Linked DNA regions of Homo sapiens. The protein of the gene in region 4 interacts with the protein of the main gene of each other region in a pairwise test. Each region holds a gene or a part of one and is shown on either strand. Other genes may lie near its edges. The genes, in order: DHTKD1, NPAS4, RORC and BMAL1.

Region 1 (7,576 bases), on a different chromosome or scaffold from region 4:
TGTCGCCCAGGCTGGAGTACAGCAGCACGATCTCGGCTCACTGCAAGCTCCACCTCCCGGGTTTACGCCATTCTCCTGCCTCAGCTTCCTGAGTAGCTGGGACTACAGGCGCCAACCACCACGCCCGGCTAATTTTTTTGTATTTTTTTAGTAGAGACGTGGTTTCACCATGTTAGCCAAGATGGTCTCAATCTCCTGACCTCGTGATCCGCCCGCCTCGGCCTCCCAAAGTGCTGAGATTACAGGCATGAGCCACCACGCCGGGCCTCACAATCTTTTCTTTCAATTATAGACAACGCTACAATGAATATGTACAAAATTGTGTGTGAATGTGTACATGAAAGTCTGTTCTTTGTATGAATTCCCAAAGGTGGAACTGCTGGGTCAAACAGAATGTATTTTATTAATTTTGTAAGATATTCACAGTCTGCCCTCTGTATAGTTCGTACCACTTTACATTTTTACCAACAATGTATGAGAGTACCTATTGCCCATACCTTTACCAACACAGCATGCTATCAAACTTTTAGAAACATTTTGAACTCTGCCAATCTACATCAAGTATTCTCACCTGAGGTCCACAGGCCTCAAGAAGGGGTTTCTCTCCCTGTAGTACCAAAGTCCACCTTCCATACAAAATCTCAGTTTCAAGCATCCCACTATCTGACCACCAGTTCACTCATTCTAGTGTCTGCACTTCAACTCTTTGCCTCTTGTTACCCTCAATCCACTGGTCCTATCAATTTTTCAGTGTCAACCTCCCTTTTGCTTGTCCCGTTACCCAGCCTAGTTTCTATGGCTCAATGCTGTGAACACTCCCTTGCCTAATGTCTTCATCAAACCTGCTAAGCAAAACCCCATACTTGGGTAAATTCATCTCCATTCTGCCCTGTACCTGCAAAGGGAGCTGAATATATCTGGAGAAAAACTCGCAACCATTCTGACTGGTCTTGAAGCCTCAGTGGGCTGTTGGCAACCCCCAAATCATGACTGTTCCCGATAAGTCCTCTTTCTCAGCCCATTGTCTCAAAATTTTTTCTTCCCTTTCAAACCTCCTCCCATATCTCCTCACTCCCTCTTTCAGCTGCTGATCTTGCTTTTTCACCAAAATTAGAAGCAGAAAAGAATTCCCATATCCTTCCATGATCAAATCTATCAATGCACATGAGTATGTATCTGATTCTTTGCTTTTCCTTCTTTTTTTTTTGAGATGGAGTTTCATTCTTGTTCCCCAGGCTAGAGTGCAATGGCAGGATCTCGGCTCACTGCAACCTCCACCTCCCGAGTTCAAGCGATTCTCCTGCCTCAACCTCCCGAGTAGCTGGGATTACAGGCGCCTGCCATAATGCCTGGCTAACTTTTTTGTATTTTTAGTAGAGGTGGGTTTTCACCATGTTGGCCAGGCTGGTCTCGAACTCCTGACCTCAGGTGATCCACCTGCCTCAGCCTCCCAAAGTGCTGGGATTACAGGCATGAGCCATCGCGCCTGGCCTCCTCTTCTTATATAAAATGTCCATGCCCCTGACTAAGATTATCTTTTCGTTCGTGGATCAACTTGAGGGACATTGATCCTGTAATTAACCCCTCCTTTCTACTCAAAGCTCTTTAGATTATCCAGTTATCCCATATCTATTCTTCACTGCCATCTCCTTGGTGTGCTCTTGTCTTTGTGCATTTGCCTAACTCCTCATGCCTCAAGATTCTGTTCTAATTTCCCTTCCACTTGCAGGTTCCCCTAACACACTCAGATCTCAGAAATTTTCTTTTCCCACAGCCCCACCCGTCCAAAGAGCTAGGTTCCCACAGGTTCACAACCAAGGAATAAAAAAGACAAGTCCGGCCAGGCGCGGTGGCTCACGCCTGTAATCCTAGCACTTTGGAAGCCTGAGGCAGGCTGATCACTTGAGGTCAGAAGCTCAAGACCAGCCTGGCCACCATGGTGAAAACCCTTATCTACTAAAAATACAAAAAAATTAGCCAGGGCTGGGCACGATGGCTCACGCCTGTAATCCCAGTACTTTGGGAGGCCGAGGTGGGTGGATCACCCGAGGTCAGGAGTTTGAGACCGTCCTGACCAACATGGAGAAACCCTGTCTCTACTAAAAATACAAAAATTTGCTGGGCATGGATGGCCGGGTGCAGTGGCTCACGTCTGTAATCCCAGCACTTTGGGAGGCCGAGGTGGGCGGATCACGAGGTCAGGAGATCGAGACCATCCTGGCTAACATGGTGAAACCTCATCTCTACTAAAAATACAAAAAATTAACTGGGTGTGGTGGTGGGCGCCTGTAGTCCCAGCTACTCGGGAGGCTGAGGCAGGAGAATGGCTGGAACCCGGAAGGCGGAGCTTGCAGTGAGCCGAGATCGCGCCATTGCACTCCAGCCTGGGCGATAGAGCGAGACTCTGTCTCAAAAGGAAAAAAAAAAAAAGATTAGCTGGGCGTGGTGGCGCATGCCTGTAATCACAGCTACTTGGGAGGCTAAGGCAGGAGAATCACTTGAACCTGGGAGGCGGAGGTTGCAGTGAGTGGAGATCTCGCCATTGCTCTCCAGCCTGGGCAACAAGAGAGAAACTCTGTCTCAAACAAACAAACAAACAAACAAAAACAACAGCAACAAAAATTAGCTGGGCGTGGTGGCAGGCGCCTGAAATCCCAGCTACTCGGGAGGCTGAGGCAGGGGAATTGCTTGAACCCGGGAGATGGAGGTTGCAGTGAGCCGAGATTGCCCTACTGCATTCCAGCCTGGGCGACAGAGCGAGACTCCGTCTCAAAAAAAAAAAAAAAAAAAAAAAAGGAAAAAAAAGACAAGCCCTTGCAAAACCAGGTCCAAACTAGCAAGATGGGGAGGCCACCAAAGTGTGGACCTAAGGGGTCCCAGCTACAGTAGCTGTGCTGGATGACGCTCCTGTGCTTGCAGGGGGCACTTACATGTGCCTACATTATATAATCTATCATCCTGTGTGCTGAGTTCTATCTACAGCTAGACTGGGAACTAAGGGCAGAAACTGTGCCTTATTAATCTTTGTAACCCAGCAGAGTGCTTTATGAGTGTACTGGTTGAATGAGTAAGAAGGAGGATGTCTTGGGCTTGTATGTATAATATTCCTAGGAGTTTGGGGTATAGCTGCACAGCTTACTGGAACGAAGGATGACTAACCAGGTAAGGATGCAGACTCTCTCTCCTACCATACTGGCAAAGTTAAAAGTAAGCCACAGAAAAAAAATCATTTGGGAAACTCACTCAGAGACAGACCAACTAATCGTTCATGTCCAGTTTCTTTTGACTCTTATCCCTTTCTTCCCTGCTCCCTTTACCCTATTTCCTTCTTTCTCTCTTAATGTTTTTTGTTTGTTTGTGAGACAGAGTCTCGCTCTGTCGCCCAGGCTGGAGTGCAGTGGGCACGATCTTGGCTCACTGCAACCTCTGCCTCCAGGGTTTAAGCGATTCTTCTGCCTCAGCCTCCCGAGTAGCTGGGACTACAGGCACCCGCCACCACACTCGGCTAATTTTTGTATTTTTAGTAGAGACGGGGTTTCACCATAGTAGCCATGATGGTCTCGAACTCCTGACTTCGTGATCCGCCCTCCTTGGCCTCCCAGAGGGCCTCCCAGAGTGTTGGGATTACAGGCATGAGCCACTGCAGCCTGTTTTGTTTTTTTTTTTTTGTTCGTTTGTTTGTTTGTTTTTGTTCTGTTTTTTTTGAGACGGAGTTTCGCTCTTGTTGCCCAGGCTGGAGTGCAATGGCGCCATCTCAACTCACCGCAACCTCCACCTCCCGGGTTCCAGCGATTTTCCTGTCTCAGCCTCCCGAGTAGCTGGGACCACAGGCACCCACCACTACGCCTGGCTAATTTTGTATTTTTAGTAGAGACGAGGTTTCTCCACGTTGGTAAGACTGGTCTCGAACCCCCGACCTCAGGTGATCCGCCCGCCTCGGCCTCCCAAAGTGCTGGGATTACAGGCGTGAACCACCGCGCCCGACCTAATTTTTGTATTTTTAGTAGAGATGGGTTTTCGCCATGTTGGACAGGTTGGTCTCAAACTCCTGACCTCAGATGATCCTCCCGCTGTGGCCCCCCAAAGTGTTAGGATTACAGGCGTGAGCCACCGCGCCCGGCCTCTGTTAATGTTTCTTAAGAAAACAAAAAAATTAGGGGTATTGATTTTGTAGCTGCGCTAAGTAACCTTTGCTTTTTGCGTCCCTTGGTCTCAGTCCTAGCCATTTCCTATCCACCCTGTGGCTAATTTGTCCTTTCTGTAACAGACACCCTAGACTGTGTCTATGCGGTTGGGCAGAGGCGTGATGGGTAAACACTCCTGGCGGGAGACTACAGGCGCTGCAGCTACATCCTGTTTCGTACTGGGAGCAGGTGCCGCCCCGCGGAACACTTACTTGCCCCGCCCTGCGGTGGAGCAGGGCGGTCTCAGCCGCCGGAACCGCCCTGGAAGCCCGCCCCAATCCTGGGCGTCGCTTCGCTGTGAGTGCCGCTGCCACGGATTGGCTTCCAGGGTCCGGCCCGTCGGCCAATCAGGCGCGGGGGCGTTGTCTGGGGGCGGGGCTCCGGCCGCCTCTGACGAGTCCCGGATTTACCAGGGCCGGTGGGATCCCCTCGGGCTCCCGCCTTAGCATGCTGGCCGGGACATCTGGTGAACATGGCCTCTGCTACTGCGGCAGCAGCACGACGGGGCCTCGGCCGGGCTCTCCCTCTCTTCTGGCGTGGCTACCAGACCGAGCGGGGCGTTTACGGCTACCGGCCGAGGAAGCCCGAGAGCCGCGAGCCCCAGGGCGCCCTGGAGCGCCCCCCAGGTCGGGGATGGGGCCCGGGCGGTGGGAGCGGGGGCTGGGACGCAGAAGCCTCCCCTGGCCGATTTGCGGTGGGGTGTCGGGGTCGGGGAACCGGCTGCCGGCCTGAACGCGCGGCCGGTGGGGAGGAGGGGGAGGTGAGGGGAGCAGAGGGTAGGTGTGGGTGCTCAGTGTTGGGGTCATCCCCCGTCCATCCTCTGTAACTGAGGATCTTTGAGGTCCACGCTTGGGTGGTCTTCCCATCTTGCTGGTCCGGACCTGGTTTCGGAAGGGCTTTTCTTTCCTTTGTTGGAAACGTGTGAGAAACTCTTTTTTTCTTTCTCTTTTTGTTTCCTTTTTTTTTTTTTTTTTTTTTTGAGACGGAGTCTCGCTCTGTGGCCCAGGCTGGAGTGCAGTGCTGCGACCACAGCTCCCTGCAGCCTCGAACTCCTGGGCTCAGGCTATCCTTCCACCTCAGCGTCCCGAGTAGCTGGGGACACAGAGGGATGACCACGCCCAGCTTTTTTTTTTTTTTTTTTTTTTTTTTCATTTTTAGTAGAGATGGGGTCCCACCATGTTGCCCAGGCTGGTCTTGAACTCTTGAGCTCAAGCTGATCCTGCAGCCTCGGCCTCCCAATGTGTTGGGATTACAGGCTGAGCCACTGCACCCAGCCTAGAAAACCAGCTCTTTAATGAGGCGGAGCTGTGGGAGAAGTAAAGTTTTAAGGTCTCCCAAGGATACATTTCCAGGACCATCTCTGAGGCTTCTTTTATGTGAGCAGGTGGGGGGGTCCAAGACTGCATTGCTTGGGAGAAGTGGGCAGTTAGTTCCAGTCTTGGAAGACAGCATGATATTTATTATGTATTTGTCTCCTTGTAGCTAGTCTGTTACTTTAATTTCAGAGTTTAACTCTTAACTCTGCTGAATTTGGAACTATGTGCTGGTGGGGTTTCTTTCTTTTCCTTTTAGCCACTCTATTGACACCTTGATATGTGCTGGTGGTTTTAATGAATTAACAGTCATGAATATCAGCTTTTGGAACTTCTGTTGCATGCTCATTTGCGAGACTAATTTTGAGTATTTGGTTTACGCTCCAAAATTATTGTATCATTATTTATCCTCACGGAGTAGAAGATAAGTACAGATTGCTTATTAGAGGAAAATCATTTGGCATCTTTGATCTGATCATTAGATTAATGTTGAAGATCCCCTTCGGCATCTGGGCACCTGACCTTGGAATGTTCCATCAATCACACACTAGAACTTCAATATTTTGCTCTTCACTTCGGAGGGCATTTAAAATAAACCTCATATCTCTGTCTCTCTCTCTTTTTTTAATCCTAAAATGGAGTCTGGCTTTGTCGCCCAGGCTGGAGTGCAGTGGCACGATCTTGGCTCACTGCAACCTCTGTCTTCTGGGTTCAAGCGATTGTCCTGCCCCAGTGTTCCGAGTAGCTGGGATTACAGGCACCTGCCACCATGCCCAGCTAATTTTTGTATTTTTAGTAGAGATGGGGTTTCACCATGTTGGCCAGGCTGGTCTTGAACTCCCGACCTGAAGTGATCCACTGGCCTTGGCCTCCTAAAGTGCTGGGATTACAGGCATGAGCCACCGTGCCTGGCCAAGAGGGAACCTCCTTTTTGCAGAGCCGAATTCCCCTTCCTGTCTACTTGCTCATTAGGGAGCTCCAACTTGACCTCATCTTTCTTCTTGGGCCTTCCTGAAAGTGACAAGATACAATGAACATACGCTCCTGAGCTACAGGCTTCAAGGGCATGTAGTCTGCCTCAGTCCTGTCCTACAGGACAAAAACCAAATGTTTTGTCCTGTAGCATAACACTGCCCATCAGCTTTCTAGGTGGAAATACCTGTGTCCTTGGTACCCATTGCCTGGCTGCTAATCCAATGCCATATATATTTTTAGGCTCTGTTAGGGCAGCAACCCACCTCTGGTACCAAATTCTGTATTAGATTGGAAGAGTTCAGGTGCTGTGATATACAAAGAGAAGGGATATCTTCTTTCCTTCCCCTTACGGTCATGACCCAGAAGTTGCATACATTGCTGCTACGTTCCCATTGTCCAAAACTTAGTCACATGGCCACCAGGTTATGGGGAAGGCTGGGAGGTGGCTCTTTGTTCTGGGTGGCCATATACTGGGCTCTCTATTACTATCAAAGAGAGGGTTCAGAATGGAAGTTAGGAATCGTAGCAGTCTCTGCCACAGAGGTATAGTAATCTGAGATGAGCAATCCACCTTTATCTTTTTCACCTCATATTTCACATCAAATCTTTTTAGTTTTTATTTTTTAAATTTTATTTATTAGGCCGGGCGCGGTGGCTCATGCCTGTAATCCCTGCACTTTGGGAGGCCGAGGTGGGCGGATCACCAGGTCAGGAGTTCAAAACTAGCCTGGCCAACATGGTGAAACCTCGTCTCTAGCAAAAATACAAAAATTAGCTGGGTGTGGTGCAGACGTGGGGCCAGGCACAGTGACTCACGCCTGTAATCCCCGCACTTTGGGAGGCCGAGACAGACAGATCACTTGAGACAGGGTCTTGCCATGTTGCCCAGGCTGGTCTCGAACTCCTGTCCTCAGGTGAAATGCTTGCCTCGGCCCCCTAAAGTGTTGGGATTATAGGCGCGAGCCACCGTGTCCAGCCCCAAATAATTTATACTTCCTAAGGAATGAAAAGAGGGTTCTATATACGCAATTTATTTGTGACATATAGTACATTTGCATTTTGTATGTGCAAACGTAACATTAATTATCAAGTATCTTTATATGT
Region 2 (8,352 bases), about 53 Mb from region 4:
GATGCAGAGACAACACTCAGTTCAGGAGCACTGGGGAAGCTGGTGCTTCTGGGAGCCCCCAGTGCTGCGGTGAAGAGTGGGTTAGTGCTGGAGCACTCTTCCTGGGAAAGAATGTTTTCAGGGAATGAGGGCAGCATGGTCGGAGTGCCCAGGACATAAGCTGCCTGGGTGTCTTCAGAGTTCAACTGCTGGCGGAGGCTCCAGGCTTCCATGTCACTGGAGAGGAGAGAAGAGGCAGCTGGTAAGGGTCCGACGTCCATATCCAGAGCAGTTCCCTGATTTGTGTCTCCTCCATGACGACCTCAGCTGCCCCCTAGTCCCCTGGCTTGTGGCTTACCTGATTGGGTAGTTATTGGCAGTAATGGGTCCCTCTGGACCTTCTGAGTATAACAGGCAGTAAATCCATGCCCAGCCTCCAGTCTTGGCCTGTAGCCTCACCACCATCTCTGCCTGAATATCTCCACTCTCAGCCACTGGGGAGAAAGAAGATGCAGAGTTAGGATGTCCACCAGGCAATTCTACCTACTCCCCACCCTTGGTCACCTCTCCACTGAATTGAGATAGCCGTGACATCCTCTCTTCTGACTACCCTCACCTGAACCACTCAGCTCTCTACCTTGACCTCACCACTCAGAGTCCCCCAGTTCTGATTTGATTATTGCCTTGAATCCTCACCTTCATGTTCACCCTATAGCATCCGAAACTGTTGGCCTCTGTTATCTCCCCAGCATCACTCTTGACTACAGATCATTCTTTGTCTGGTCTCCCATGCCCTTTCCCAGCTTGCTATCTTGTCCCCAGCCTCTCTGGACACTCACACAGGCGGTAGTGTTGAGCAGAAGCGTGGGCCAGGTCCTCGGGGTGCAGCAGTCCATACCATGATTTACAAAGCAGTTCACTGCGCTCAAAGCCCAGGTAGATTAGGACACTGGGAAGGTGGAAAGGGTGAGGTCAGCTTTCTGTTTTCCTTGCTTGATACCCATGCATCTCACTCCCTCCCAGATCCTCTGCCCCCCTAAACCCCATCCTCCCTGCCCCTGACTCCAGAATCTAGGGTCCCTTCATCTCTGGCCTGCCTTTCTCTTGGAATCTGAACACTCCAGGCTTACCTCTCGGAGATGTCCAGTAGAGCCAGGTCTTTAGCATGGCGGCTCTGGAACATGGCCAGGAAGAGCGAGGCAGGGCCAGGGCCAGGGCCAGGACCTGGGCGGGGTCTCGGCTCCAGAGGGGCACAGAAAGCTGTGAACACGGGATTTCCTGCCCAGTAGGCTCCAGGTGGGTGAGCATGGAATCGGCCTCGAATAAGCACGAGTTTGTTGCCTGCACTCTGGCGCCTGAGGGACTTGGAGGTGTTGAAGCGGCAGCGGAAGAGGCGATCTAGATAGATGAAGAGAAAAACAGATAAGAGGGTGAGTGGCTGAGAGAGAGACAGTGGATGGTGGGGAGAAGGGCAGCAGGTGGGAAATTGGACCGAGGAAGGGAGAAGGGAGTCCTTACCAGTGTCCAGGGCAGAGGGCAGGGTGAGTTGCTGGCGCACAGTGAGGTGGTCAGCTGGGTCAATGATGTCGTAGATGCTGTCACCCTGGGCAACCAGGTCCACCTGGAGGGAGGAAAAGAAGAGATGACCATTAGGGAGAACAGCAGGAGCCAATCTTTGATCTACAGTATCTTGTAGGGTATAACCTCTCCCTCCATAGTAATTCCCAGTTCCTCAGGAGTGGAAGGCTCACGGCACCCACTCCATGCCCAGCCTCAGCTGAAAGGACCCTTAGCACTCACCATGGAGTGGCCCAGATGCTCGCTCACACTCTCAGACAGGTAGAGCAATTTCCCCTCGGCTGTGAACACAAGCAGAAAGCCGGGTAGTGCCGCTACGATGTCCTCAAGCTCTTGAGCTGAGAGAAGCCCCGTGGGGCCCGCCAGAGGAGTGCCTGTAGGGCGAGAAGACGTAGTGCGTCAGGAGTAAGACTGGGAGGCAGAGAAGAAGTGAGGAAGGCATGGTCTGAGTTTCAGAGAATCCAGAGGAATTTCTCATGGACCTGCCTCTGCAAACACCTGTTGACCCGCTGCCCGCAGCTCTTGGCCAGGGAACCTGTTGCTGTATCTCCATAGCCCACAAGCCCTCGACTTCTAAAGCGGGGTCGGCTCCTCTCGGCTCTTAATTTCAGAACCGCGGACAGAGCTCCAAAGCGGCTCTGAATTTCAGAACCGCGGACAGAGCTCCGAAGCCGACTGTGGGTTCAGAACCATGGACAGAGCCATACACGGCCGGCGCAGCCGTCAGCACCATGGGCAGCGCCCCGAAGGCGACAGGAGATCCCTTTCAGCACCGCGGACAGTAGCTATGTTCCCCTAGGCTCAGGCAGCTCCATCCCTGCAACTTCCCGGGCTTCCCTCCCCGGCTCCCGGAGCGCTTCTGCACTGGCGGGCACCGAGGCCGCTCTGTCCTGGCTCTTATCCTCTCATAATCTGGTGTTAGGGACACCGTCCAGGCTCTCTAACTCTCATTCAGAACTAAGGTGAGGTCTGGAGGGAGCTCAGGAGGAAAAGTAGAAAGTCCCGAATCTCCCGAGTCCCGAATCTCCCCAGCTCGCCAGCACGCTGCCCTAGACATGCGACAGCCCCAGCGGGTTCCCTCAGCTCCAGGGTCTCCGGCGCCTGGCAGCTCGGATCTGCGGTAGCCCCAGCATGCTCACCACCAGCGAAGAAGACGCCCTTGCGAGTGTAGATGCAGGCGAGGCTCATGATGTGCAGGTAGGACAGCCGGACCTTGTCCGCTTCGGCCAGCGGCAGCAGCTCCTTGAGGTTCCGGATCTCGGCGTTGATCTGGTCCCGGCGCGCCTTGGAGGCGCCCTTGGTGGAGCGGTACATGACCGGCGGCTGCGGAGCTCCAGCTCGGGTGCCCGAGCACCTGCGCTCCCGTCCCGACGCACCGGCGGCTTCCTCCTCCGTGCTTCCCCGTCTCTCGCTCAGGCTCGCTCTCTGCTCTCCTGGGCTCCGCTCGGCTGCGCTGCCCCCCTCGCCTGCCTCACGCCGCCTTATATAGCTCCTGCCAGGCGTGGGGGGCTCGTTTTAGAGCCGGGGGGGCGGGAGAGCGGGAGGCTGGGCTAAGCAAGCTGCAGCGGGAGCCGCTGACTGGGGAGGGGGGCTCCTCCTCCCGCCCGGCTTCCGACGTCATCTCATGACGTAGAATGAGAGAGGGAGGGAGGCGGGCGAGGGGGGAGCAGGAGGCTGCGGAGGGGGCCAAGCCTGGCGGGAGCTGAGCGGAGAGGAAGGCGCTGCGTTAGGAAAGCTTGAATGGAGTGTGGGGACCCTGGCGTCTGAATGCGTTCAGTTGAGGGAAGCGACAGGGCCAGGTTTAGGGCGGCCTGAAGCCCGCGGCAGGAGTCCGCAGAGGGCAGAGAGGGGCCGGCACTGACACTAATTTTTCTGAGGAGTTGAGGGAATGGGGAAGAACAGGGTTGTCTACAAATCCCCCTCGTTACTTGACAGACAAGGTCACGTTCACATGCAGGGAAGGAGGACTTTCCTTGGCCTCCGTGGGACAGGTCACTGCTGGGGTTCCTCTCTGGGGACTATTTAACCTGGGATTCCCTTGGCCATTTTTAGAGAACAAATTCCCGCCCCCGCTTCCCAAATCGGGCCTTGGCGGCTTATCAGGGGGTGTTCATGGGGGTCTAAGTCCCGAGGATGGGTGGAAAGGGAGTCCGGTGGGAAAGGGACCAGCTGAATTTGGCGTTGATCCTGTTTTCCCACAGCCAAGAATAGAAACCAACATCAGCGCTGTAGTCTGCAGTGATTCGTGGTTTCCCTCTCAGCTAATTAACCTTACTGAAGGGGAAACTGAGGCAGGGACGTGGGGGCACGGCGAGGACCTGGGTCTGCACTTAGGCATCCCTTCCCCCCGTTGCCGGCCCCCAAGCGAGCGCTTCCCCCCGCCCTGCTGCCAGCCTCTGTCTCCCCGCGGGCCGGGGGCGGGGGCGGGGCCGGGGGAATCCCAGCTCCATATTAGGACAGGAATCCTCCGGCGGCTGCCGCGGCTGCGGCGGGCGGGGCCTGGCTGCCTCCGCACCGCTCCGGAGGGCTCCCCGCCCTGCCTAGGCGGGCAAGATGGGGGAGCAGCTGAGAAGCGAAGGGGCAGCGCCGGACCCTCCATGACCCCTGCACCTACCAGGGACCCTGTATTTTTGCCAGGTTCCCTCCACCCCTCTCCACATTTGCGCCTCTAAGGCTCCTGGCTCTGCCTCTCCACCTTCAGCTCTCCACTTTCCACCTTCGTTTCTTTTTCTGTCCTTTCATATCCTTTTCTATCCTTTTCATATCCTGTCACCTTTGCCCTATCCCCACCCCCCCACACACCCGCTTTTTTTCTCTTTTCACCACAGATGATTGCTCTCTACAGGGGCGAGGATGTGCCGTTCTTATCCTGGGATTCAATAATGCAAGAAGCAAGTGGGCTAGGGAATGTTCTTATCTGAAATCTCGTTTGATGGAGTAGCTGTGTGCGCATGGAATCACTTAAGTGGCTGGAAATGAGGCCACTTAAAAATTGGAGGGTGGGACTGGGAAGTCCCAGTCACACAGGAAGCATGGAGATGAACTTTGACATCAAAAAGGACAATTTGGGGCCAGGGAACTCTCCGCTCCTCATGGAAAGGGGTGGTAGTAAGAGAGGTAGAGTGGGAGGAGAGGCGGCTGAGGAGAAGTATGTCTTAGAAGAGGTGTACAAGGTGTGGAGACCCTATTCTGGTGTCTTATGCATTTTGGCAGAGGTTGGGGCCATCCTGTGGTCAGTGTCACAGCTGAGGTGGAGGGAACGATGTCCGCTTATCTGTCTGCCACTGTCTCTAACCCCATTGACCTGGATGACAGAGAGATGATTCCTCCTGGACATGGGTCTGTGTTGCTTCTTTCTTCTCAATCTGACCTCTAATGTACCTACCCACCCCTCTCTCAATCTTCCATTTGAACAATCCCTTGATCTTTGGATCCCCTTCCGTATGAAATTCCAGGGGGGTTGTTCCTGTGTTCTTCATTCACTGATGCTAAAGCTGCCTGTGAGGCATTCTGAGTGTCCCCCTCCACAATAAGAGGAGTCTACTGGCTGGGTGTCATGGCCTCCAGCAATCTGAGCGAATCTGCAGTGAAGGAATACTGCGCCGACCGCTGTCCGTGGTGCTGAAAGAGTCACCATGGAAGTCATGCTACGGTTTGCCGGGGACATCGACGTAGGGCTTGGGTACCCACAGGCCTCAGAGTGAGCCTACTCTTTGACTGTCCCCTTATTCTCTGTGAATGAATATGGAGGGTTTGCAGGGGGCCAAGATTTCTGGGCTCTAAGGGTGAAGTAAGCAAGGGAGGAGAACTGGGCTCAGGGGAAGAGCCCCTGGCTTTTTCCAGGAGAATGGAATGGGAAGAAACACTTTGGAAGGGAAGAAGGGTCTAGAAAGGGACAAGGGAGGGGGTAGAGAAGGGCTCATCCTAGTTCGCCCACTCTGATTCAAGTTGAGAAGCTCTGTGTGCCCCAATGTCTCCTCTCCCTAGGCCAGCTCCCACTCCCCTTGCCTCCCACCTCCGTGAAGCTATTTTTAACTGTGCAGAACCAAAAATAGCTTGGCAGCAGCTTCAGGCCGTGGGAGAGGAGCTATTTATATCACCAGTGACGGTTCCGAAATAGCAAGCAGGAGGAGGGGGGCGGCTGGCACACTAGAGAGCTCCTGGCCGCTGCTAAAAATACTGGCAGTGTGAGTCATCCTGGCCTGGCTGAGTCACCCCACTCTCTCCCCCAAGTGGCAGGCAGCAGCAGAACAAGCTAAGAATTAGAAGCCTGAGATGGGGGAGGCATCAGAGCCTGCTGGCTGTGGGAAAGTGGGCAAGGGAGTGAATTGGGAGAGGGGCTTTGGGGTGAGCGTGTAGAAGGAATGGGAGAGCAAGCCTCTCAGCCAAACCTACTGGGCAAGCGTGCAGCATCCTCAGCTATGCACTACTGCTCAAGGATGCTTGGGCAATTGAAGGAAAAGAGCCAGACTCTGTGTGTGTGTCTGTGTGTTTGTGTGTGTGTGTGTTCATTTGACTGAGACTGTGTTTGTGTGTCCTGTGTGTCTGCCTCCAAACCTGTCTGGAGGTGGTTGGATGTCTACATCTCTATCTGTTTGCATGTGTCTTTGTAGCTGCGAGTCTGTACCCCTGTATATCTATGTTTACCTATGCCTGCATCTATGCTTGTCTTTTTTTTTTGTCTCCAACTTCCTATGTTCTGTGCAGTTCTATGTTTGTGCCTGTGTGTATTTATGTCTACAATTTTCCATATGCCTTTCTGTCAGTGTCTGTGTTTGTGTCCATATCTGAGTCTGCTCTGGGTCTTTCAGCATCTGATGGTGTGGTGGGATGTACATGCGTCCCCAGACTCAATATAGCTTCTGTTGCCCTCTCTGAGGTCACCCGTTGAGTTCCTGCACCATCTATATCTTGCTCACCTCTTTCCACCTAACATCTTCTCCTCTTTCCAAAGGCCCCCTAACCATTTGCAAAGCTCTCTTGTTGCATGCAATCTCTAGTAAAAACATGGAGGAAAGGAGCCCCACATGACCTCTCCCTTTTCTCTTGAATCATCCTGAATTCTCCCTGGCCTGCAGGAGTAAGTGGTTTTCCATCACTCCATATTTGGAGAGCTGAGAGAAGAGAAGGGCTTTCTTTAGTTCTAAAAAAAAAAAATTCCTGGTGTGGGCACAGGCATGTGTAGCGCGCATGCACACACACACAGGCGCACATACACATGCACGCACACACACACAACTGAGAGAATGAGAGAGAGAAAAAAATATCAAGGTCCCTTCTTTACTGAGACGAGCTCGCATCTGTTGCCATAGCAACCCACCCACTCCTTCCCCGAAAAATCACCGAGAAGAGGTGATGGCATCGAGGAGGGATTGGCTGATTCCTTTCTTTATTATTTTTTCCGAAAAAGGGTTTTTGTAGCAAAAACAGGCCGTGAGATCCCTTGCTCCTGTCTTGCATAGCTTTATTGGGAAACTGGGGGAGGGGCATCACCCCCCAGCCTTTATCAGAGAAGAGGAGGTGTATCTTTTCCAGAGATTTGGAGGAGGATTACCTCCTGGGAAGGAGTTGAAGGGTGGGTGAGGAATCTGCTTCTTCAGAACAGCATGGAGACTCCTGGCTGCTAGTCTGGAGATTTGGAGCAAGGATCTTGACAGAGGGCTGTCAAAGTGTGATCTTGTCTTGCTCTGGACAAATGTGTCTATGAGAAAGAGAAAGGGGGAGGAAGGGAAGGGAAGTGGGGAGAGACAGAAAGAATATGAATGAATGAATCACTGAATGGGGCTTCAGAGAAAATGACAATATGCCAAAGGATGCAAGCTTGCAGTAGTGGTCAGACCAGACAGGTGGGCAAGATGGTCCAAGAAAGATGCATTGATGCAATTGGTGGTGCTGCAAGTTACCAATGAGACCACAGCTGCAACTACTTAACTTATGGCCATAGGTTAATGTTCCAGAGGAGCACTGAAGCCCATTTTTCATAGTTCTATTCCCAGCCTGAGTCTCCAAGGCCTCCTCCAAAGCCTGGCCACCAGCCACTGCAGCCATATCACTCTCTCAAGTGAACTGTAGCTTGTTGCCAAATGACTGGATGGTGGAAAGAAAGGGATTCCTTGTTTCCTCCCGTGCTTGGCTTGCTACAGAAATGGGGTCACTTGGGGCTCGAGCTTGGAAAGACAGATGAAGAATCTGACCCTGGAGAGAGACACCTTCCTTTCTGGCAGGCTGCTGCTACCCTCAGCAGGCAAGGGCATGGCCAGCTGAGGTTGGCATGGGCAGTGGGTGCAAATCCACTTAACGTTATGAAGCAGAGGGACAAAAAGACTTCAGATTTGCTCTGGCCTGTTAGACACATTCTCACGACAAATCTGGCTGATATCATTATTGTTATTTATATACAGTCTTGCTCTGTCATCTAGACTAGAGTGCAGTGGCCTGATCATAGCTCACTGCCACCTCAAACTCCTGGGCTGAAATGATCTTCTGTGTCAGGATCTCGAGTAGCTGGGACTACAGGCATAAACTACTACACCCAGATAATTTAAAAAAATTTTTTCTGCCCAGGCTGGTCTTGAACTCCTGACCTCAAGCAATCCTCCCACCTTGGCCTCCCAAAGTGCTGGAATTACACGTGTGAGCCACGACACCCAGCCTTGACTGATATTATGATGCTCATTTGATAGATGGTGAAACAAAGGCTCAGAGATAGATAATGACTTAATCAAAGTCACACAGCAAGTCTGGCAATGCTGAGCCTCACCCCTAGTTCCTGCTCCCAACCCAAGCTTTCTCTTT
Region 3 (7,959 bases), on a different chromosome or scaffold from region 4:
AATTATCTCCAGCCTCTCATCCTCATCCCATCCATTTTTGGTTAGACCCCAGGTAAAGGGTAGGGTGCCCAAATACTTCCTTGCTGAGCTGGGAGGAAGGCAGAGGCAGAAAATGTAAAGCTCCAGATTCATTTTATACAGGTCCTTCTGGGCTCTCACTGCCAGTCTCTGAGCTTGATCCATCTCCCCAAGCCGAAGCCCAAAGGGAAATGCAATGAGGTATTTCAAAGGCTTATTCTTAGCTTCTGAGCTTCTGAATGAATTGCATTCTATTCATCCAGGGAGCCCTGGATGCCCCTGTTTTCTTGAGGATGTCTTGGTCCCCCAGAAGTCCTTAAATCCCAGCCACCCCATGCCTTCCAGAAGCTGGGTGTGAAGGAATATGGGAAATGAGACAGGTCAAAGCTGAGGCTGGAGATGGTGTTCTGCCAGCCCCACCCTCTGGCGATTGTCCCACTGCCAGGCCGGCCTGCTGACAGAAAGCCAGCCGCAGCATCTGCTCACTTCCAAAGAGCTGGTGGGGACCACCCTCCAGGGTTCATGGGAAAGGAAAAGGGTGAGGGTGGAACGGGGTCCAGGGAGGTGGGCCAGCAGGCCATAGGGAGAGGCAAGGAGTCCCTCTTCCAGGTCACTTGGACAGCCCCACAGGTGACTCGGTTTCAGTGCTGAAGAGCTCCTTGTAGAGTGGAGGGAAAGCGGCTTGGACCACGATGGGGTGGAGGTGCTGGAAGATCTGCAGCCTTTCCACATGCTGGCTACACAGGCTCCGAAGCTTCCCCTTGGGTGGCAGCTGGATATGGGTTAATGGGGAAGGGAGGGTCAATACTTCAGCTCTCCTCAGAGCAAAGAAGTCCGCTCATTCTTCCTGGGCTAGGACAAACCCTCCTTGCCTTCCCCTTATGTACTTGGCACTTTGGCACCAGCCAAATCCCACTGGTAGAAGTACGTGTGTGTTCAGGACACTGGAGGGAAGTGAGAGTGGGTGGGGCACAGGTGAATGTTTTCTGGGTGAAGCCCTCAATTTATGTTCCCAATACTTCTAGAATGAACCTTGTCAAAGACTCTAATGTGCACTTCCTGCTTTTATAAGAGTGATTGTCTGTGACTCTTGTTGTATGCTGTCACATGCCTCTGCCTTTGTGCATGTTGTTCCCCTCTTCCCATTACTAATCCTTACCCTCTAGTGTCACCTCTCCTAAGACTATTTCCCTAACTGCCTCCCATCTGGATTAAGGGCCCTTCTTTTGGGCTTTCCTCTGTGTAGCACTTACTACATTGCAGGAAAATGGTCCAATTTGTCTGCCTTCCCACCCTAGATTTCAGCTCCTTGGCTGAGGTCTCTCTTTCCCTGTCTCCTCTGTACCTATCATAATGCTTAGCACATGGCACATGCTTAATAACTCTTTGAACTAAACAGACTTTCTAAGCAGGCACCTAACACTGCAAGTAGCAAACCAATGCTGCCAGCACTCAGCCAAAGGGGAGATGAAAAAGGCACAGAAACCAGTGAGCAGACGGAGGCAGGGAGACCTCACTGGAGCAAGGCTGAAAGAACAATTTATCTCTTGCAGTCTCCTCTACAACCAAGAGGCTTAAAAATGTCTCTTGCCTGCCATTGCCTCCCTCCCCCAGCTTAGTTTCCTTGGAAAGAGGCAGTCAGAGAAAAGCAGGCAGCAGGGTGTGATCCCTTCATATCTCCTAGATTCTCTCTCTTCCTCACCACTGCTTTATTCTGAGCTTTTTTGGGCTATGGCAATAGCTTCCTTCATTCATTCAACAAATATTTGTTGAGAACACATCTGGATCTGAGCTAGGCACTGTGATGGCCTCTAGTGATATATCAGATATATCAGTCAATAAAGTATAATCTGTACCTTGATTAAATTTACATTCTGGTGAGGGGCCCAGAAAATAAATATGTAGTGTATCAGATAATAAGTTCTTTAAAGAAAACTAAAGCTTTTTGTATGGGGTTACTGGTCAGGAAAAACCTCTCCCGAATGAAGAGATGGGGTAAGCCATTTGGAAAACTGGGGGAAGAACCCTCCAGGTGACTACAATAGCAGGTACAAAAGCCCTGCGACTGGGTTTGATGTGTTCGAGGAATAGCAAGGAAGCAAGTGTGGCTGCAATGGGTGTTTGAAGGGGCAGTGGAAGATCAAGTGAGAAAAGAAGGCAGGGATCATGTTATGAGCCACTTGACCATGACGCAGACTCTAGATTTGATTCTCGGCATCACAGGCAGCTACAGGAGGGCTGAGAACAGGAGTCAAGGCCAGGTGTGGTGGTTCACGCCTGTAATCCCAACACTTTGGGAGGCCAAGGTGGGCAGATCACCTGAGGTCAGGAGTTCGAGACCAGCCTGGCCAACATGGTGAAACCCTGTCTCTACTAAAAATACAAAAATTAGCCGGGCGTGTAATCCCTGTAATCCAAGCTACTCAGGAGGCTGAGGCAGGACAATCGCTTGAACCTGGGAGGTGGAGGTTGCAGTGAGCCGAGATCACACCACTGCACTCCAGCCTGGGCGACAGAGCAAGTCTGCCTCAAAACAAACAAACAGAACAAACAAACAACAACAACAAAAACAAGAAAAAAACCACAGGAGTAGGGCATGATGAGATTGCATTTTTAAAAGGGCTACCGTGGGTGCGGAGTAGGTGTGGTTGCTACAGGGCAGATGAGGGTGGAACAGGGGCTCAGTTAGGAGGCCTCTCTTAAAGTCCAAGTGAAAGCTGAGAGCTGGTAGGGGCCAGGGTGGTGGTAATAGTAGGGAAGGTGATGTATTTTGAAAGCAGATCCAACCGGATGTGCTTTCCAATTGCTCTCCCAGATTCCTGTCTCTCCTCCTTCAAATCCATCCTGTAGCAGATTAAAGTTCAAGTTCTTGAGAGCACAGACCGTGTAAGTCATTGCTGTATCCTTAACACCCAGCCCTGTGCCTGGCACATAGCAAAGGCCTGCTTGAATAATTACATAAATGGTTCCTTTATACTGGTTCCAAAGTAAATTGCCTAAATGACAGCTCTGATTGTGTCATTTTTCTAGCCTTTGGAGCTCCCTGTGGCCTAGAAATAAAGCTTTAACGCTTATATGGCATTGAAAGTCCTCTCTGATTTGCCCCTGACCTAATTTTCAGGCTGATCATCTGGTGCTCTTCTGCCCCACCAGTCTATCCCAGCTCCTGATTTTACACTTTAGTGAGGATGTACCATGAGTGATTCTCCACATACACACTATTTTGCCTCCTTATTTTTCTCCTGTTGTTCTTGGTCTTCATTGTACCCTAGTCCCACACCCAAATCCCATAAAACAATTATCCCCAGCCTCTCATACTCATCTCATCCATTTTTTTGGTTAAACCTCAGGAAAAGGATTTTTTTTCATTTTTTTTGTTTTGCTCCTATTGTTCCCTAAGCCTGGAATGCCTGCCCCACCCCCATGAATGCCTGTTAAAATCTTACATCATTCATGGCCTAGTATAAATGTCATCTTCCCTGGGAAGTATTTATGACCCACTCCTTTTACCCCCAAATTATTTTTAATCCCTGTTTTATACTCTCATAACATTTTCCTGGTGTCACTTATTATAGTTATACATAGGGGACACAGGGATAGAAAGAGCGCAAAGAGCACTGGGATTCAATCTTGCATTTAAGTCACTGAAGTCTCCTGATAGCTACAAGGAGATTTTTTTTTTTTTTTTGAGACAGAGTTTGCTCTTGTTGCCCAGGCTGGAGTGCAATGGCACAATCTTGGCTCACTGCAACATCTGCCTCCCGGTTTCAAGCGATTATCCTGCCTCAGCCTCCCAAGTAGCTGGGTCTACAGGCGCCTGCCACCATGCCTGGCTAATTTTTTTTATTTTTAGTAGAGATGGGGTTTCACCATGTTAGTCAGGCTGGTCTCGAACTCCTGACCTCAGGTGATCCACCCGCCTTGGCCTCCCAAAGTGTTGGGATTACAGGCGTGAGCCACTGTGCCCGGCTGCTACACAGGGAGATTTGAACACCTGTCCTATTGACTGGGTTGCCATGAGGATGAGAAAGCATGTCAGCAAAAGCACTCTGTTAATTGCATTATTATTATATCACATACCACATTCTACTCTATGTTAGAGTTAGTGATACACAGATCTCTTCTTCATACCAGATTAAAATCTCTTGGTGGGGGCAGCGACCAAATCTCTGTGTCTTTCCACAGTGCCTTGTACAAGCAGGTGCTGGGTAAGTGCTGGCTATATTAAACTGAATTGTTCCCTGGAGGTCCCTCCCAATCCCAGGCCCTCTAACTTTCCAGTCTTTATGCACGTGGAAGTAGCTGTTCATTCCCTTAGTTCCCACTGCTGATGCAAGCTCTCTAACAGAGAGTGGTACTCCCGCACTCCCTCCTCTGTACCCACAGACCCCGGCCCTCGCAAACTCTGATGTTACAGAGCTAGCGATGGGCCTGGCCTCTTCTACCCCAGGGACTGCTCCTACCTTTGCCAGGATGCTTTGGCGATGAGTCTTGCAGAGATGATGATGAAAGGCCAGCTCCAGATTGTACTGCAGCTGTTCTACTTTCCTTTTCTCTTGGAGCCCTGGCCGATCTGGAGGAGGGGGTGGGACCGTAATGAGAACAAGAAAGAACATGGACATTAACTCCCAACAAAAGGGTGTATCTTTGTGGACATCTGTGCTGGATAGAGGTCTTCTAAGCTGAGCGCGTGCATGTGTGTGCCTTGGTTTGATAATGGTAAGCTCTGGACGTTGGGCTTGGCTAGCTGTCTACAAGGAAAACTGGGAAGAGATGAAAGGTATGAGAATTTCTGATCTCCTGACTCCAAGCTACCTTCTCCCTGGTAACCTGATATTCCACATAGCTCATTCAATGCTAGGCACTAGGATTCTGTCATAGGGGTAACAAGAGTTGGAAAAGAGCTCCCCCATGTACGAAAAGGGCTCCTGATAGGAGGTGGCCTTCCTGAAGGTGCCCAGGCCTGCACCAGGGGGCTTGCAGCAATCTGTGACTAACTTTTGCCCTGATTCTATAAAATATCCAGAAGTCATCTTTAAAGTTTTTATCTTCTAGTTTGAAGGGCATATTTAGGTGTCCACTCACTGGCAGAGCCAGAAGACTGATAGTCTCGATCTGCAAACTCAGGTTAGCAGCTTGACCCACTTCCCTAGGTTCTCTGAATATTTAGTATTCATCTGGCTCAGCCCAGCTACTCCATGCCAGGGGAGTGGATAGGATATCCAGAGTCTTCCTATTATAGGCATACAGCCTTAAAATTAGTTCACACAGAGCAGTGATTCTTAATCTTGGTGGCCTGGGGGTGGCTGTTAAAATTCAGTGCACCCCTTATCAATTACAGATGGTCCCAGTCTTATGATGAGTTGACTTACTATTTTTTGATTTTATGTTGGTGAGAAAGCCACTTGCATTCAGTAGAAACCATACTTTGAATACCCATGCAACCATCCTGCTGTTCACTTTTAGAACCATATTCAATAAATTACATGAGCTATTCAACACTTTATTATAAAATAGGCTTTGTGTTATATGCTTTTGCCAGACTGTAGGCTAATGTAAGCATTCTGAGCACATTTAAGGTAGGCTAGGCTAAGCTATGGTGTTCAGTAAGTTAGGCGTGTTAAATGCAATTTCAACTTACCATATTTTCAACTTACGATAGGTTTATTGGGACATAACCCCATCATAAGTCATGGAGCACATGTACACTGGAATCTCTGGAAGTGGGACCCAGGCAGCAATAGTTTTTAAAGCTCCCCAGGTGATTCTGATGTGTGCTACAATGAAATCACTGCCATAGACTAACAATCAGACACATTTCTGTCAGGAAAGTGGCTCATTTCCTCTCAACCTCATTTCTCCCCACTTCCCACAACCCCACCTTATGCTGCTCTTGTCCCTCTCTGAGAGTCCTCTGAATCTTTATTTTAACTCATTTTATTTTATAGCAATACTGAGTAGGGCTCATTCTGCTATTTAAAGCAATTTCCCAGATTTAACTACATCTGAAGGTCTAGACTCTTCTTCAATATCTGCCATGCCCCTGCCACCTGAATGTCCTTCACCCAAGCCCAGCAACACTCACGGGCATTGATGAGAACAAGGGCTGTGTAGAGGGCAATCTCATCCTCGGAAAAGTGCAAGGCACTTAGGGAGTGGGAGAAGTCAAAGATGGAGCTGATGAGCTCGCTGCAGCCTGATGGAGTGGAAATGAGAAAAGTGAGAGAGTGGCTGGAGCGATGGTGCCCGAGGACACCGCCCTTATTGTGTTTAGAGCAGAGGGGGCAATTCGCCCTGAAAAGAGGGTGCCCTGGGTCACAAAGCTTTGCCTGGGGTTGGCATCAGAATCTTCCCTCTCATTTCTCCCTGCCCCTCACCCAAGGCTCGGAACAGCTCCATGCCACCGTATTTGCCTTCAAAAAAGACCGTGCGGTTGTCAGCATTGTAGGCCCGGCACATCCTAACCAGCACCACTTCCATTGCTCCTGGGCAGTGGGGAGAGAAGATGCAGGGACAGTGTCAAGCAAAGCCAGGATCTGACTCTGTCCCCCTGATTTCCTTAAGCCACCTCCCTCCACTTGGCTCTGTCCCCTTGTCCCCAGGCCTGCCCACCCATCCCTGGGCACCTGCTTTGAGAAGCACAATCTGGTCATTCTGGCAGAGCTCCATAAAGCCTGAGAGCCTCTTGGCGAACTCCACCACGTACTGAATGGCCTCGGTGAGGTGGTGGGCACACCGTTCCCACATCTCCCACATGGACTGCAGGGAGGGAGGAGGGTCCCGCTGTAGCGCTCTGTGTGGCCCTGTGATCCTCCTGAGCCCTGGAGCCCCACCTAATAAACTGCAAGGGGTAGGCTCTGAACTCCTATGTTCTCAACTAGCATTTTCAAAAGCCTGGTCTTAGCACAAATGCACAGATTCCTGCCAGTGAGTCCCACACACTGAGCACCTACCGGCTGCTGACACCGAGTTAGCTGTTGTGAGGGAATCCAAAAAGTATGAGATACAGCTTTGCCCTCCAACAAGGTATATCTCGTTGAGGTGAACAGGACATACAGCTGCCCCTTCCCCCACAAAGGTTATGCCCAAGGTCTCAATAACCTGGAGAAGCAAATGTGAAGTGCCAAACGAGTGTGTTTAGAGCAGGTGGTATGAGAGTGTGATCGAAAAGGCAGCATAAACTTTGGAGCCTGATGAATCTGAATTTGACTTTGGTTCCACCACTTTGTGACTTTGAGGAAACCTATTAACCCCTCTAGGCTCAGTTTCTGTCTGTTAAAAGTAGGAATAAATGCCACCCTCATAGGTTGGTTGTGGTAGGGGCTGAGGATAATTTACATAAAGCGTTTAGCACAATGCCTGGCAGAGAAGGGGTGTTTAACAAATGGTAATCAGGGTTCTGATTATTGTTATTGTTGATGGAAGAGGAGGAAGGAGGGTGCACCAAGGTCTGCATGGTAGAGGAGGTAGGATGAAGGCCAGGTACAATTTTAATAGGCAAGAACTAAGGAAAAGCGCTCATCCATCTGCTGGGGTGTAGACAGATACACACATTCGCAACTGTACATAAAAGGTGTGCACATGCTTGTTGGCCAGCCTGTGTCTGTGATGTCCCGCCCTGCCCCAGGACCCAGTCGTGCGCAGGTAGCCATCTCTGAACTCTCCCGGTGGGGGTGGGATACGTTCCCTTCCTGCAGGTCTCCTGGCCTCACCTTCCTCTGGTAGCCAGTCACTTCCTCCCGGGAGAAGATGTTGGAGCGCTGCCGCAGCAGGTCCTCCAGCCGCAGCTGGCATGTCTCCCTGTAGGACTTGCAGACGCTCTGCACCAGGTGCTCTGGGGCCGGAGAAGGAAGGCATGGCTTGATCTCAGCCAGCTCCTACGCCTACCCATGCAAGGGCACTTCTCAGCCTGGCCTATCCTGCTCCGCCTCCTCCCTCCGC
Region 4 (7,959 bases):
TTGGTGTAAGGGTTATAATGTATCTGAGCTTTCTTTGTGATTTCATCATCAACTCTCACTGTGGTAGGAAAATCAATATTAAATAAACAGTTTCAGCCCCGTGATTACATGCAGTGATTTTAGGAAGCATCATGATAACTAAAGTAGGTACTTGCAGGGAAGTAAAATATCCTTTCTAGACCTTGAGGTTTCGTTGGGAGCTAGGGACACAGGCATGTTATCCTTCTCCACAGTCTTTTTTCATTGTCACCTTATCACAAGACTCAGATTTATCCCAAATACCCACCTTGTCTTTTCTTCTCCCTCTCATGAAATAAGACCTGCTCTGACTCAACCCCCTCAGCATCTCTTACTTCCCACCCAAAATGTCCTGTCTCTATCCCCATCGTCCCCTCATCTCCTCCCAATTCAGAGAAAGCAAGTGGACCTCTCCTCTGTTCCTTTTCTTGGCCTCTCACCATGGGCAAGTGCCTGGGCTCTGGTGGCAGAAGAATCCATGGCTCAGGTTTGGGCTTTGTGGTCTTGGATGTGTGCTTGACTCCTCTGACCTCAGGTTTCTCCTCTTGGTGTAATGGCAGTGCCTGCCTCGTGGAGTCTGTGTGAGGATTAAGGGAGATGGTGCATGTAAAAGGCCTGGCACACAGGAAGCCTTTCCTTTGTGCCAGCTGCCATTCCTTCTCACCTCTACCCGGGTCCTATCACTAGAATATTATTTGTGCTGTTTGTCCTTAGTCTCCCCTGCCCCACCCTGAAAACCTTAGGCTTGACTTAGGAGAGGAAGGATGGAAGAGGCAGAGTCAGACTTGTGGTGAGCCTGCTGTGTACCAGGCAATTTACATGTGTCTTTACTTGGTACCCTGGGTTCGTAAGCCTCTCTTTCCTCCCTCCTGCCAGCCTCCCCCACTCTCCCATCTCCTGCTCCATTCTTAGTACCTGCCCTCTGGCTTCTCTCGCTACCACCTTTCTTTATATTTCTTCTCAAAGTTTTCTCCAAAACTTTGTCGTGAGTTCCTGGGGCCCATCTGCCCATCCTTATTCCTGAGTGGTTGTTCTTGGCCCCTTTGCAGTATTTCTTTTATTTTTTTAAACATGGTCTCAGTCTTGCCTGGTTGGAGTGCAGTGGTGCAATCGTGGCTCACTGCAGCCTCCCAAGTCTCAGGTAATCCTCCTGCCTCAGCCTCCAGAGTAGCTGAGCCTACAGACACGTGCCATCACACCTGGCTCATTTTTGTATTTTTATTAGAGATGGAGTTTTGCCATGTTGCCCAGGCTGGTCTCAAACTCCTGGGCTCAAGTGACCCACCTGCACTGGCCTCCCAAAGTGCTGGGATTACAGGCGTGAGTCACTGTGCTCAGCCCCTTTGAAGCTTTTACCTCACTTGTTTTTTGTCCTTTGAAATCCTTTCCTCTCTCAGCCTTTGGGTCATGCTGGTTTCTTGATTCTCTTCCTGCACCCCTGTAAAGATAAATGTCTGTCCTAGCTTCTGCTATTCACACTGTCCGTGGCCTGGGGTCCCCTCTCTAGCCCTGACCTGTCTCTCCTGTGTTCTGCTAGCAGGTCCGTTGTGGACATGAATGGCAGCCTGTAATCTGCATTTGTGGTCTCGGAGTTACAGGTTTGCAGACTGCTTGCAAGCACTGTCACATTGAGTCCTCATGACACACTGGAGCCTACATCCCTTCATTCCCCAGGCTGTCCTAAAAGGCAGTTTGGTTGGGTAGTTTAGCATACAGACTCTGGAGCCAGATTTCACATCCTAAGTATTCCCTACTGGCTTCGTGACTTGTGGTCAATTTTCTTTTGCTCTCTATGCCTTGGTGTCCTCATCTATAAAACTGGGATCATAGTAGCCCCTACATCAGAGAGTTGAGGTGTGGATTAAATGAGTTAAAGCATTGGAAAAAGTGTGCCAGTCTATTCATGGCACATTGCAAACACTCAGTGAATGTTGCTGTCAGTCTTGCTGCTCTTCGTTGCCTTGCCGGGGTGCCTTGGCCTGGTTTGTAGTGGTCTCCACATTCAGCCTGCCTGTCTGCCAGACCTTGCCATGTGCCTGGACACTGTAGTCAAGCTGAGGGGCTGTCCATTCCCTGTACCAGCCCTTGGCCCAGTCCATCCCTCAATTTTCACGTGTCCAAATCCTCCTCTGCTTTTAGGACCCAGGGCCTTGGTCCTGCAGCACTATTTCTTCATTTTGTTTTCCTTCCTCCCCACACCTGGCAGCAATGTCCACATTGATTTTTCTCCAATTCTCTTAGGTTCTGCTGCATTCCATATTGTGTTGGGCTGTCTCTGAAAATATCTCACCTGCTCGCTCAGCCTGAGCATTCTGGGAGAAGTTTATCTTGCTTTTTCCAAAATGACAGGCACAGGGAGCCTTTAGGCCATGGTTGTCCAATGCACATTGATCTTGTGGAGGAGGAGATGGGATGGGGTGGGCACTCAGGGACGGAGCAGGTGGAGGGAACAGGATGCACACTGCATAGAGGTGGGGGTGCAACAGGGCCATAAGTGGACATGGCCGTAAGTACTTAGGTCTGCATGGAAGGAGGGTTTGAATTGGGGACTTAACCTCAGGGGGAGATAAGATTGGATAAGGTTTAGTCATCTTTGCTGCAGGGGAACGTTGAGTACTGGCATGTAATGGAGAGTGGTTTTTACCTTAGTATGTGCTGTCCTTTTAAATAGTGTAAACTAATTCTTTATCTAGCCTGGTTAAAGAAGGGGATGGCTGGTCTGCCTAATTTAATATTTGGCTATTGCTCTACCCACTGGGTTTTGTGCATATACTGAATGAAGCATTGGCTTGTATTTATTCCTTCAATCACTGTTTGAAATGTCTGACCTGGGCAAGTTAATTAGCTTCTCTGAGTGCAAAATAGGAATAATAATTATTACGATAATAGCAGCTAACATTTATTGAACACTTTCTATGTGCCAGCACATATGTGAGTCACCTTTGCTTATTAACTCATTTAAACCCCATAACAACTACATGAGGCAGGTACTATTATCCTTACTTCACAAATGAGGTGGTTTTATAAACTGCCCAAGGTCACTCAGCTGTTATGGCTTGGGGCAGAATTTGTGCTGGTGAACTCCAGAGTCTGCCCTGTAACACCCTAGTAGATTCCTACTGGGAGGAAACACCCCGTTATATCCCTTACCTCACTCAGCCGCACCATGCCAGGAGCCTAGTAGGCTGACAGCAATTGGGAACCAGTCTTATTGTTGACAAACATGGTATGAGCCTCTTTTAGAGCGGAGCTGCCTGAAACCCTCCGCATAAGGGATGCGGACCTGGATGCTACCTGAGCAGCAGCTCCAGGGGCTTGTGAACATTCTCCTCACATCCTGTTATGCATGGCTGTCTCTCTGGCCTCCCCCTGCTTTCTCTGCAGCATTGCTCTGACCCAGGCCCCCTGTGGCTCAGCCAGCTCCTCCCCAGGCAGCTCCTTGTGTGAGATGAACCTTTTAACATAACTCACTAACCCCACCTCCCACCCTCATCTAGCCATCTGCAGAGCTCCTCACTGGGGAGGGGACCTTTTCAAAGGTCCCTCACCTTCGTCCTTTTCTCCCTGAAGACCAACGTCCACAACTTTGGTATATCCACAGTGTTGGGGTGTGTGTGTGTGTGTGTGTGTGTGTGTGTGTGTATATATATGTGTGTGTGTATATATATATATATGTGTATATATATATATGTGTGTATATATATATATGTGTATATATATATATGTGTGTATATATATATGTGTATATATATATATATGTGTGTGTATATATATATATATATATATATATATATATATTTTTTTTTTTAATGCCAGTTGTTCCCCAAATACATTTAGATAGTAAGGGACACATTGTTTTATGTCAAGAACCTGTTACATAAAAATGTGTTATATAATGTTCAAATATATACTGCACAGTGAAATTAGATACCACTTTTTTTTTTTCAAAGAATAAAAGGATAATAAACACAGGCCGTCCTGAATATAATTAACCTCAGATTTGGGAGGCATGGAAGGACGTGCCCTGCCCTCAGAGCTCTCGTCCTGAGCTCTGCCTTTCTTGAGTGCGCCGGGAGCAGGATGGATGGGAAGTTGGCCTGAATCTGCCATGGTGTGGTACTGTGAGATGCTCTGGAAATTGTCTTTTTTTTTTGGCGGGGGGTGGGGGATGCCTTCGCATCTTGCTCACTTGTATCTTTCTCACACCTAAGCAGAGGGAAGAAGCTCTTTTTGCCCCCTCGTACTTAGACCACCCAGGTCATCTTTTGACCAGTTTTCTGCTCTGCTCAACTCCTTTCAATCTTCCCAGATGACAGGCCAGCTTTGCCTGCTAAGAACAGCCCTGGTGCCAGTGGCATGCAGGTGGCACCCCTGTGTCCAGTCTTCCAGGCTCTCCAGGGTCTGGTCCTGTTCCTCCTCCCCAGCCCTGCTTCCCCGCTCAACCTCCATTCCCAGCCACAGCCCTGTGCCCGAGGTTCAGTCCTCCTTGCCTCTCCGCTGTCCTCCCTAGGCCACCTCACTTCACACTCTCCCTCTGGCTAGCGGGGTCTTTGCTTAAATTGTTCCCTTGAGGCCTCTCTTCCTTGCCCGTGCCTGCCTTGGATCTCACTTCTCTGTGAGGTACCTCTGATAACATTTGTTCCCTTTGTGTGTGCTCTCCCTTTTGCTCTTGATTGCCAACCATTCATTCGTTCAGAAGCAGGGGTATGTCATAATGAGCAAATTACCATATCATACTGAATCAGGATGGCCAGTTGTCTCATTTTTTAATTGTTTCATGGTTAATTATCTTACGCTCACTTCCCACTCTCCAGTTTCACTCAGTTACTCCGTCAGTGAAGTTTATTGGATGCCTAGCACTGTTGTGGGCACTGAGGATACAGCAGTGAACAAAACAAGGGGCCCGCAGGAGGGGACAGATGATGAATAGTGAAACACGTTCATGCCTTGTTGTGAGAAGTGCTAGGAGTGCTAGGATAGCAAGCAAATAGAGTAAAGCAGTAGCGATGAGGTATGGTGGGAGGGAGGGTACCTTATCTAGATCACAGGGGAGACCTCTCTGAGGAGGTGACATTTGAACTTAGCTTCAGAAAGATCTGGGGGAAAGTATCCCAGGAAGAGAGAACAGCACATGTAAAGGCCCTGGGGTTGAAAGGTGCTTGATATTTTTGAGGAAAGTAAAGGCTAGTGTGACTCGATTATGAGCTGCTTGTGTACAGATGTTTTCTGCCTCTTTTATACTCCCTTTAACCCTGAGCCCAGTGTTAGGAAGGCCTTGTAAATACTTACATACAGAATTATAGCATTTGTCATTGGTTATATATTATAAAATAGTAATTTTATAAAATAATAATTTATCATACCCTGCTTAGAAGGCTTTTAATAAAACATTATATTGCATATAAACAAATTAAGGGTTTGAAGGGTTTTCTTATAAATGCACTCCTAGCATGTTTCACCAAATATTACTGTTTTAATTGTGTTTAGTGCAGAACTTTAGACCTCATAATTCTGCTTCATGTGCACAACCATCTTAAAAACAGGTTTTGTTCCAAAAGTTTATTTGTAAGGCACTAGGTGGAAACTTGGGATAAATTTTTCTATAAGAAACAATGAAGTAAATAGTGATGTAGTTTCTAGGCGAGCCCTCAAAAGCTATTTAGTGGTGACTGTAGCTGAAAACATACTGGTTGGTATCAGCAGTCGTCAAGCCTTCTGCTGGTAGACCCTCCTCTCAGTAGCATTGTACCTCATTTGCTGTTAGCAATCATAGGACCCATTTACCTCAGTCACTTCTCCTACTGTATTTTCAGTCTGTTAAAGTTTTATAGAAGGGATTTTTTACCTTTATACCTTTAAGATTTGGTTGCATGTGTTATAAATGAGACAGTAGTGCAGAGAGTGGGGAAAACTCTGGACTGGGAGCTGGGAGAGGCCTGGGCTCCAGACTGGGCCCAGCCACTGACTGGCTGAGTAAATTTGAGTAAGTTATCCTCTTTGAACTTTGATTTCTCAGGTTCTTCTTGGCTGTAAAATCCTATTGTTTTCTCACCATAGCAGGGAAACGTAGATATACTTCGTTGTTCAAACCTGCCCTCAAATGGCTGCCTCTGATTTCTTCTTGAAGAAGTATATGGCACTCAGCAATGAGGAACTCAAGCAGTTCCCCATGTGCAGAGCTCTGCAGTGACATTCTCAGTAGGAACCTTGATTTTGATCTGCTATCTTTCTTGATGAGTTGAAAGAAATTTTGTCCCAGAACTTTTGGTCCAGATAAGATTTCTGTGTTCTTGGCCAACTTATCTTCCATATAATTATGTAAATTGTTTTTTCTTTTTAACTCTTAGGGATAAAAATGGTGACTCTGGCTTGCCTGCTTATAAAATATAGTTATAAGTGCCCTTAGGGAATGGAATGAGTTTGCAGGAGAGAGCAGAGCTGAAAGAGTGTGGGATCAAAAACAACTTTAAATGTTAAATGCAAAGCTATTTTCAGTACCCTGCTGGAAGAAAAAATTTTTTTCAAGGTTTTAGAGGATAGAAGAGGTTTTTGCTCCAAAGAAGAAAGGAACCTAAGGTTTTGCAGTGGTGAAAAGTACCTGATCCTTTAACCAACTACCACCCTCCCTTCCCACCTCTGAGTTTTGTTTTCGACATCATGAACCACATTTGCCATTTGAGAGGTTTGATATTTAAGTGACGTTAGTGGCAGAGCTCAACTGGCAGTGTTCAAATGACTTAGGTGCAGAGTGCTGTGCTGCAAACTTCCCCAGTGCATTCTAGGGTAAGGGATGCCTCATAGAGAGTGACAGAGCACTTTTAGCTCTGCCTCTATTTGGTCAGTTGTGAATGGTGTGTTCCTTTTTTTCCTTACTTGAAGGCATAGCGAGGAGTTGGTACAAGAAGTTATTGCTTCATGGACTTCACTTTGGAGCTAGAGGGTGGCATTAGACCTAGCCTGCCTTCTTGGATGCTGGAATACCAGTGGCAATGTCATCTCTTGTTCTCTGCTATACCCCTAGCAATGAAAACAGTGTCTGTACAGAAAAGTCTCTCAATAAATACTTGTTTATTCCTTCAAAAAGTGAATTCAGCTTTGGATAAATTTTTAATTTCCTCCACTCTCTAGCAGTATAGGCTTATGAGGTTGGTCTTGCAAGGTACTTTGGAGTTTAGGTTGCCATTTCTTTTTGACATCTGTGTTTTTCTTATTCTTCAGGTTGGTCAGGTATCAGTGTCTTTTACTGATGATGGTTGTCCCTGCCCTGCTGATGTTCATCTTCTGTTATCTTTAATTGGCTCCAAACTGCAGCAAATCTATAGCTGAGCCACATTAACTAAAAGAAAACTTGTTGCATATTTATTTAGGCATAGTACTACACATGTATTTATTCAGTCAACAAATATCTGTGAGTCTATATGCCAAGAATGTTACTAGACCCAAAGGAAGAGCAGAAATTGTTGTTGTGACCAAGGAGCCTGCAGTTTGATTGCCTTGTGGAACATCTTTATGAGCATTGTAGAAGGGAGGAGGCTTCATAGAACTGGTCAGGTTTTCACCTTTAAGGATGGTAGGATTTCGATTCACAGACAAGGTGAGGACAGGTATTTCCAGGAAGTGGCTGAGCGGAAACAGCATAATTAAAAACACAGAAGTAGGAATGGACCAGTTTGCATTCATGGACACAGACTTGTCTAAAATGGAAGGTTCTTAAATAATGGTGGGAATTTAAGTATGGAAGATCACTGAAGGCCCAAACCTGAAGCCATTTTAGACACCTAGTGACTTGCCTAAAGTGACAGCTGATAAGTGGTAGATCCAGGCTTAAAATAAGGCCATGGGAGCTCTCGACCACTGGCACTGGACTTGGCTGTTTCCCAGCAGTCTCTAGATGCAGGATTTGGGTTTGATTGGGGATTTTCTTTTTTCTTTCTTTCTTTC

What was found.
Region 1: the proteins of BMAL1 (region 4) and DHTKD1 interact in binary tests that used the Homo sapiens proteins (3 or more experiments, as listed by UniProt).
Region 2: the proteins of BMAL1 (region 4) and NPAS4 interact in a two-hybrid assay, tested with the Homo sapiens proteins (one study listed by BioGRID).
Region 3: the proteins of BMAL1 (region 4) and RORC interact in a two-hybrid assay, tested with the Homo sapiens proteins (one study listed by BioGRID).

The regions. Positions count from the first base shown.
Region 1 is NC_000010.11:12,064,378-12,071,953, forward strand, and holds the start of DHTKD1 (2-oxoadipate dehydrogenase complex component E1), read left to right. Parts: upstream 1-4,576; 5' UTR 4,577-4,656; coding exon 4,657-4,810; intron 4,811-7,576. UniProt on the Homo sapiens protein: 2-oxoadipate dehydrogenase (E1a) component of the 2-oxoadipate dehydrogenase complex (OADHC). Participates in the first step, rate limiting for the overall conversion of 2-oxoadipate (alpha-ketoadipate) to glutaryl-CoA and CO(2) catalyzed by the whole OADHC.
Region 2 is NC_000011.10:66,415,699-66,424,050, reverse strand, and holds the start of NPAS4 (neuronal PAS domain-containing protein 4), read right to left. Parts: upstream 2,872-8,352; coding exon 2,697-2,871; intron 1,932-2,696; coding exon 1,780-1,931; intron 1,601-1,779; coding exon 1,498-1,600; intron 1,378-1,497; coding exon 1,110-1,377; intron 929-1,109; coding exon 819-928; intron 812-818; exon of another isoform or gene 676-811; intron 474-675; coding exon 338-473; exon of another isoform or gene 217-337; coding exon 1-216. UniProt on the Homo sapiens protein: Transcription factor expressed in neurons of the brain that regulates the excitatory-inhibitory balance within neural circuits and is required for contextual memory in the hippocampus. Plays a key role in the structural and functional plasticity of neurons.
Region 3 is NC_000001.11:151,806,844-151,814,802, forward strand, and holds part of RORC (nuclear receptor ROR-gamma), read right to left. Parts: intron 7,853-7,959; coding exon 7,731-7,852; intron 6,860-7,730; coding exon of another isoform or gene 6,778-6,859; coding exon 6,645-6,777; intron 6,504-6,644; coding exon 6,396-6,503; intron 6,215-6,395; coding exon 6,104-6,214; intron 4,592-6,103; coding exon 4,482-4,591; intron 791-4,481; coding exon 629-790; 3' UTR 1-628. UniProt on the Homo sapiens protein: Nuclear receptor that binds DNA as a monomer to ROR response elements (RORE) containing a single core motif half-site 5'-AGGTCA-3' preceded by a short A-T-rich sequence.
Region 4 is NC_000011.10:13,280,452-13,288,410, forward strand, and holds part of BMAL1 (basic helix-loop-helix ARNT-like protein 1), read left to right. Parts: intron 1-7,959. UniProt on the Homo sapiens protein: Transcriptional activator which forms a core component of the circadian clock.